2 linked regions of the Homo sapiens genome follow. The protein of the gene in region 1 purifies or fractionates together with the protein of each later gene. This does not show direct contact. Each region holds a gene or a part of one and is shown in the gene's direction. Other genes may lie near its edges.

Region 1 (3,500 bases):
TTTTAACCATTTCCACATTTCTTAAGTGAGAAGAGAAATCTAATTTCTGTCATCAATGCTAAAGTTTCTTGAAATAAATAGAAAAAGTTAGTTGCAATCTCTGACGAGCATTATCTTCTCTGAGCTCCCTTCTAAGTAGTATATAGCTATCACCTTGGATTCATCTTGGAATTAGTAGAGACTTTCCACTTGTGCTGTCCTCACAGGAATGTAGATGATTATGAAGTGCAATGGAATTTATCTTGTAAAAGATATGTACCAGGCAATGTTTTTTAATGAGCGGCTACAGTTTGATTGAAAGAGAATAGCTCACTCATGAACAGGTAGTGCTTGTACTCTGTCCTCTCGGCAGAAAATAGTCATGGACAATGTCATGTCTTCTATGGGAAGGAAAGATGTGGTTCGTTCTGGACAGTAAAAATGCAGCCCTTCTGAGGCTTAATAAAACTACTCGAAGTCATTGCTTTAATTGTATGTTAGTTGTGGAGAGGGAAAGCTATTTCTAAAATGCTATTTTATTTATACCCACCCTGGTTCATGCCATTTTTGTTTTACAAATCAAGAGTTTAAAAAAGTTACTTTACTTATTACCTGTCTACACAGAACATTGGAATTTTCCCCACTGAAGTACATACACAGCAAGAGATTGCAATAAAATAATTTTTAAAAATCAGTAAATATTTTCGGTTAAGCACTCGAAACATCCAATAAATAGTTACTACAATAGCTACATTGACAAAGACTTTAAATTACCTTATTTATTTCTTCCTTAATCTTTCAAAGTAGGTAGTATTAAACACAGAGCATCAGTTTCTTCACCTGCCACAAATAAGATAAACGTGCCCAGGTGACTTATTTCATGAACGATAGAGCTGTGATTCAGACTACTTCTATCTGACTCTAGAGTCAATGCTCTAAACAGCTATCTCATGGGGCTTTCCACAGTTCGGCTGAATTACAAGGTTGATAAGAAGAAGGTTGATTCTGATTGATTGCTATGATTTAAAGGACCTGCACGAAATGTTGTCACTCAGTAGGTCTCTGGCTGTTAAATTCTGAACATGTGATCTAAAGACTGCAAAGGGCGTGACTTCAAAGAAGGAGGGATTTAGATTAGACTCGAGAAATGACTTTCTGGCCACCACTGTGTCTGTAACTGGCAAGGGAGTTGTGGGACTGATACTCGTTTTTTTTTTTTTAGGATGATCTTGATACTGGTTTGCCTTTAAAAAGCCCAACAGAAGAAAATTACTCTCAATATCTTAACTAAACTGATGATTCCAAGAAAGTTTTCTAAGTAAAGGTCTGGTTCTAGAACACTAGAGAAGAGATCTTATTTTGACTTTATTGTCTTTGTCACTGGCTTAGTCACCCCATTCTGAAATTTCTGTAACAGAAAAATTTCTACGTGAAGAATAAACTTGTGACTCTACCTTGGGAAAGAAGGAGGAGGAGAGGCATTTATTTATTGATTTTTGCAAAGGAAACCAGCAATTATAGAACTTAAAGAAAACAAAAACTTCAGGTAGAGAGGAGTAACATGGCAGTAACAGAGCAAAAAGTGGATTTGAGGCCGGTCGCGGTGGCTCACGTCTGTAATCCCAGCACTTTGAGAGGCTGAGGCAGGTGGGTCACTTGAGTTCAGGGGTTTGAGACCAGCCTGGCCAGCATGGTGAAACCCCATCTTTACTAAAAATACAAAAAAAATTAGCCGGGCATTGTGGCGGGTGCCTCTAATCCCAGCTACTCAGGAGGCTGAGGCAGGAGAATTGCTTGAACCCAGGAGGCAGAGGTTGCAGTGAGCCGAGATCGTGCCATTGCCCTCCAGCCTGGGCAACAAGAGTGAAACTCCAACTCAAAAAAAAAAAAAAAAAAAATGGATTTGACAGATATTATTCTGGATGTCAAAACAAGCAAACAATATGCTTTTGGACAGATTGACATCTGGATAAATATGTGGTCTGATGCCAGAAAGGATGACCGGAAGGGTTGTGGCTGAGTGAAGGATACACAAAATAATATGTGCACGTGTATGTGTGTGGGTGTGTGTGTTTACATAAACAATTTCAGAATATGTTTCTGCCAAGGGAATCTGGTTAGAGAATTCTGAAGGCTTTAGGAAAGGTGATCTTCCTGTATTATTTATATTTGAATAAATGCAAGTGTATTTCCTCTCTAAAATCCAAAGGCTTTTTCTACCTGCTCAGCCCCATTCAGCCAGGGCTTGGGTGAATTGCTCTGGGTCACACACTGAATCGCCACCCCCTGCTTTCGTGAAATACCACTTTGAATTCAATGTGCATTTACCTGTTTTGAAACAGGCTGCTAATGGCTCTAAATTCAAGGTCAGAAACATTTTTAATAGAAACTCACTGGTCCTCTGTGTCATTTTTGCTTTCATGAAATATTGTGGCTGCTAAGCCTAGTGGATAATAAAAGCATAGTTTCCTGTCAACCACAATAATCTGCTGGATTGAATCCTGAAGTGTCTGTAAAAGCCTGTTTTTGTTTTAGACGTCACCTATCAGTGTGTTGTTCATCATTTTGAACTTTAATCCACATTATTTACAAAACGGATGGTGTAATATGTTTTTGCATAATGACTTATATATCCGTGACTTGACTGAGTTCATCTTAAAATAATGTTGGAATCAGCAGAGTGAAATTCAGGCTGTAATTAGAACTATCTCTGAAATGTAAGTATGAATGAAAAGTCAGATTTTAAGTATTTTACCCAGGAAAATATATCATCATATGGGGGAATTCTAAAGACTTTCGTATATGTAAGAATTCCAGAGAAACTGTAAAATCTCTTCATCTCACTATCTGAGTGTAAATCAATGCAGCAGCATTATAATAAAGTAGATTGCTTTGTCAGACACACATACTGTGGTTGGAAAATGTAAAAATAAATTGATTTCTTTTACCCCAGCTTTACAACCTTGCTCAATTTCTTCTTCCTTGCATCAAGTTAAGCAGTTTGTGTATGCAGCTACTATTCGCAGTTATTAATTAATACTGATAACACTGACATAAGACTCAGTTGCATCTCACAAGTTTCTACAAAGCCATTCTCTGATGTTCTAAGAGGACAGTGTTAGTCTGCCCATGGCAGAGGTACAAGCATACAAATAGTGTGGTTCCAAGTGTCACAGCAGAGTCCCATCCCTCTCGAATTAGCAGGATTGCCTTGAAGACCAAGTCTCAACTCTCCCTGATAGCATGCATGTGCCTGTGAACACACCAGTTAGCTCAGCAATTTTCCCAGTGCCTCACATAAAATAGATCTGTGAGGAGAGGAAAGTATTGTCACATCATATAAAATTGCATATATTCATATACCCTAGTTCAAGGTTTCCCCAAATCCATGTGTTCAGTCCTTTATTCACAGCGGTGGTTAAGTAGTTCATGGCATGACATTCAATGACATGAGGAAGTGACTCTTCCACCACACCACTGAGTCCTTTAGGTTATCTCTAGGAGGTCTGAGCTGCGAGCTG
Region 2 (3,500 bases), on another chromosome or scaffold:
GTTCTGGGTTTGTGGGATGTTTAGTGGCGTCCCTGGTCTCCACCTACTAGATGCCAGTGGGACCTCTCAATTGTGACAACCTAAAATGTCTCCAGACAGTGCCAAACACCCCCCTGGAGGGCAAAATCGTCCCTGAGAACTGCTGGTTTTAGAACCTTTCCCTAATACGAAGTGTGGTTTGAGGACCAGGAGCATCAGCAATATCTGGGAGAGGGTTAGGAATTCAGGATCCCAGGCCCCACCCCCTCCCCAGGCCTGCTGAGTCGGAATTTCCATCTACAAGGTCCTCGGGAGGCTCCTCTGTGCAGTACTTTATTTTTTATTTTATTTTATTTTATTTTATTTTTATTTTTATTCGAGACGGTTTCTCTCTTGTCGCTCTGGCTGGAGTGCAGTGGTGCAATCTCAGCTTACTACGACCTCCACCTCCCAGGTTCAAGCAATTCTCCTGCCTCAGCCTCCCGAGTAGCTGGGATTACAGGCACATGCCACCACGTCCAGCTAATTTTTGTATTTTTAGTAGAGACAGGGTTTTACCATGTTGGCCAGGCTGGTCTCGAACTCCTGACCTCAGGTGATCCACCCACCTCAGCCTCCCAAAGTGCTGGGATTACAGGCGTGAGCCACCACGCCAGGCCTCCTCTGTGCCGTTTTTCAGGAGCAGGAGAGAGTTCGGTTGAATTTACATGAATAAAGATACAGTGAAAGGTAGCTATTCTCAAAAATTGGATTAAAATGGGGCCATTTTGATGATGCATTTAAGAAGGAAGGGGGCAGTCTTGTGTTTGGCTCAGGCCTCTTCACCACATGAACCTGCCACCCCTTGGTAACTGTCCTGCAGCTCACAGGAAAACTGTGAGAAGACAATGGCTGCTACGCAGGGAGCATCTGCCTTCTAGAAAGTGGTTTTCAACCAGGCAGAAACGGTCTTCTGTGACCCACTAAGATCATGTCTCACATGGGTGAATAAAATCAGAATTCTTTGAACTGATTAACCCAGCACTGGCCCATGTATTAGATAATTAGTGGCTCCCAGCATTTCTGGGAGAGGGTTAAGTAGGGATGTCATCCTTGCTCTGAAAACCACAAATTACCACTGACTTCTGATGATGTGTGATCTCCTTTGCCGCAAAGAAGATCATATTAAAGAGACCCAAGTCATTTAGGGGCAGCTTTAACAATATCCACTGAGTATGTGCAGACTGCTTTATCCAGATTGGGCAGGGAGTTCTGTCGATGACACTGCCTGCAGCAGTGACATTTATAGAAAGTCCATGGCAGGAGAGAGAATAGAATCCAGGGCCCATCTCTCCTTTCGCCTGTAACTACAGGTTTAATTTTACCGGCTAGAAAGTAACTATCGTGGTGCTATTGGAAACTGTTAACATAGGTGGACTGCTAATTGAAGTTATTTGTTGTTCCCCTCATGGGTCATGGACAGAGCTGTAAATTGATAGAGGTGGCCGTCCTCCACACCACGGCCCTGCCTGGCAAAGGCCTGCTCTCATCAATGTGTGGTTTCCAAAGTCACCCTGTCCATCTCCATTCCAGCCAGCTGGAAGGGGAAACCAAGTGGGAATGTGTGCCCAAGTTTTACAACCAAACATCCAAAATGGTACGTGTCGCTTCTCCCACATTCCATAAGGCTAGAACTCAGCCCCGCAACCTAGTTTAACTGCAGGGGAGGCTGGGAGATGTCATCTAGTTGTAACCCAGCGAGAAAACTACTGGACAACTAGATTTCTGCACAAGAGATCTCCAGAGCTCCATTAGAGATTATCATGTGTGTTCATCCCATTTCTAAAGATGCCAAAGTGCACTGGCACTTAAGGTTCACTTACATGGCTGGGTTTTTGAGGTTGATGGCTGCCTTTATCTTCCAGTATGATTACTGCCCAGGAAAACACTCTGTTGCATGAACTAAAGGACTGTTTTATAGTGACCAAAAAAAGTGGGGAGGGGGTATCTCTCGAGGGCTTTTCCTAGGAATCCCAAATTTCTAGCTATCCTGAATCTTGTAGAACTCCTACACGCAGACTGTGAAATCATTACTATCAGGGGCTTACTAAATAATAAATATGATCTATTACCTTGAGCTAATTTCATAGAAACGTACGGCTGTTATGTGTTTTTTTAAAGAGCTGCAGAGGTCTTCCGTGATTCTCTAGTCTATGTGTTCCTTGTCTAGATTGAGTAATGAAATTGTGAAGTGTAATTGCTGCCTAACACAGCCAAGCTCTCCCGTGGCTGATTGTCTTGCTTTGCTTTCTTAGGGTTTAAATGCGGTATTTGACATCTTGGTGATAGGCAAATTCAATGTTCTGGAAATTGTCCAGAAGGTACTACATAAGGACAAGTCATTAGAGGTGAGTCTGTACTTTTATCTCCAGCCCAGACATGGAAAATGTCAAGTACCAGCTGATTTAAAATGCCATTCTCAAATATTCCTTGTGATTTTGAATTCTACAATAACCAGCCTTTTAAAGCACAGTGTTGAAGCAGTTCAGGCAGAATTGCTGCACATCTGTACCTGGCTCAGCCACACTTTTATGTGAAAATCAGCCACCTCTGGGGCTTTGCGATGTCCTTGCAGAATCTCGGCATGCTCAGGAACGGGGGCCTCCTCTTCAGAATGACCCTGCTCACCTCTGGAGGGGCTGGGATGCTCTACGTGCGCTGGAGGATCATGGGCACGGGCCCGCCGGCCTTCACCGAGGTGGACAACCCGGCCTCCTTTGCTGACAGCATGCTGGTGAGGGTGAGTTCTGAGCCTGCCGCCCCCTGGACTCTTTTCTTCCCCCACCAGATTCCCAGATCCCTCACCCCTCCTCCTCGTCTCACTCCTCTGCACGCCAACAAAATCCCCAATACACGCGCCACCTCCATGTTTGCTTGCGATCACTAAAGATGTTCTGGGATGAAAGCAGGTCTTCCTGAGGGGGTTGAAAGGGCATGCAGAAGCTCCTTGCATTTCCGTTCTAACAAGGAGTAAAGAGGGTGGTTCCTTCTCACATCAGGGTCCTTGCCAGTCCCGTGAAAGGGCTCCCTAACCCTGTGGCTGGGTTAAGGCTAAATATAACCTTCTTGGTGGTATCTTTAGAAGACTAGTGGTGTCAAGACTATTCTTTTAGATTTGCCTTTTTTCTAAAGGCAAGGGTATCAAGCCACAGATTCTTAGCTGTGCATTTCATAGAGACCAAAATCAAGAGAACAGCCATCGAAGCCTGTTATGTTATTGGGTGTATAGGTGACCCTGGGTCCTCAGATTTAGAGGTCACAGGCTTCAGGCAGCAAATAGATCATAGCTTTGCCAGAAATATAACGAATGTATTGCATAGTCTGATGGCTTTGCCATATTTTTATATACCAAAATCTGAATACATTTAATACATTTTTACAGACTATAGTCACATACCCAATACACGTTGGCAACATTTTATTTGATACAACTGCTTTCATTGAGCAGAAGCATATGAGTGCCTCCAAAGTGAAGTTAGTGC

What was found. The genes of interacting proteins can lie anywhere in the genome.
Region 2: the proteins of CDH8 (region 1) and TMTC4 purify together in Homo sapiens (co-immunoprecipitation; 3 studies listed by BioGRID and IntAct, with this or other methods). This does not show direct contact.

The regions. Positions count from the first base shown.
Region 1 is NC_000016.10:62,026,439-62,029,938, reverse strand, and holds part of CDH8 (cadherin-8 isoform 1 preproprotein), read left to right. Parts: intron 1-3,500. UniProt on the Homo sapiens protein: Cadherins are calcium-dependent cell adhesion proteins. They preferentially interact with themselves in a homophilic manner in connecting cells; cadherins may thus contribute to the sorting of heterogeneous cell types.
Region 2 is NC_000013.11:100,636,796-100,640,295, reverse strand, and holds part of TMTC4 (protein O-mannosyl-transferase TMTC4), read left to right. Parts: intron 1-1,441; coding exon of another isoform or gene 1,442-1,615; intron 1,616-2,273; coding exon 2,274-2,366; intron 2,367-2,593; coding exon 2,594-2,758; intron 2,759-3,500. UniProt on the Homo sapiens protein: Transfers mannosyl residues to the hydroxyl group of serine or threonine residues.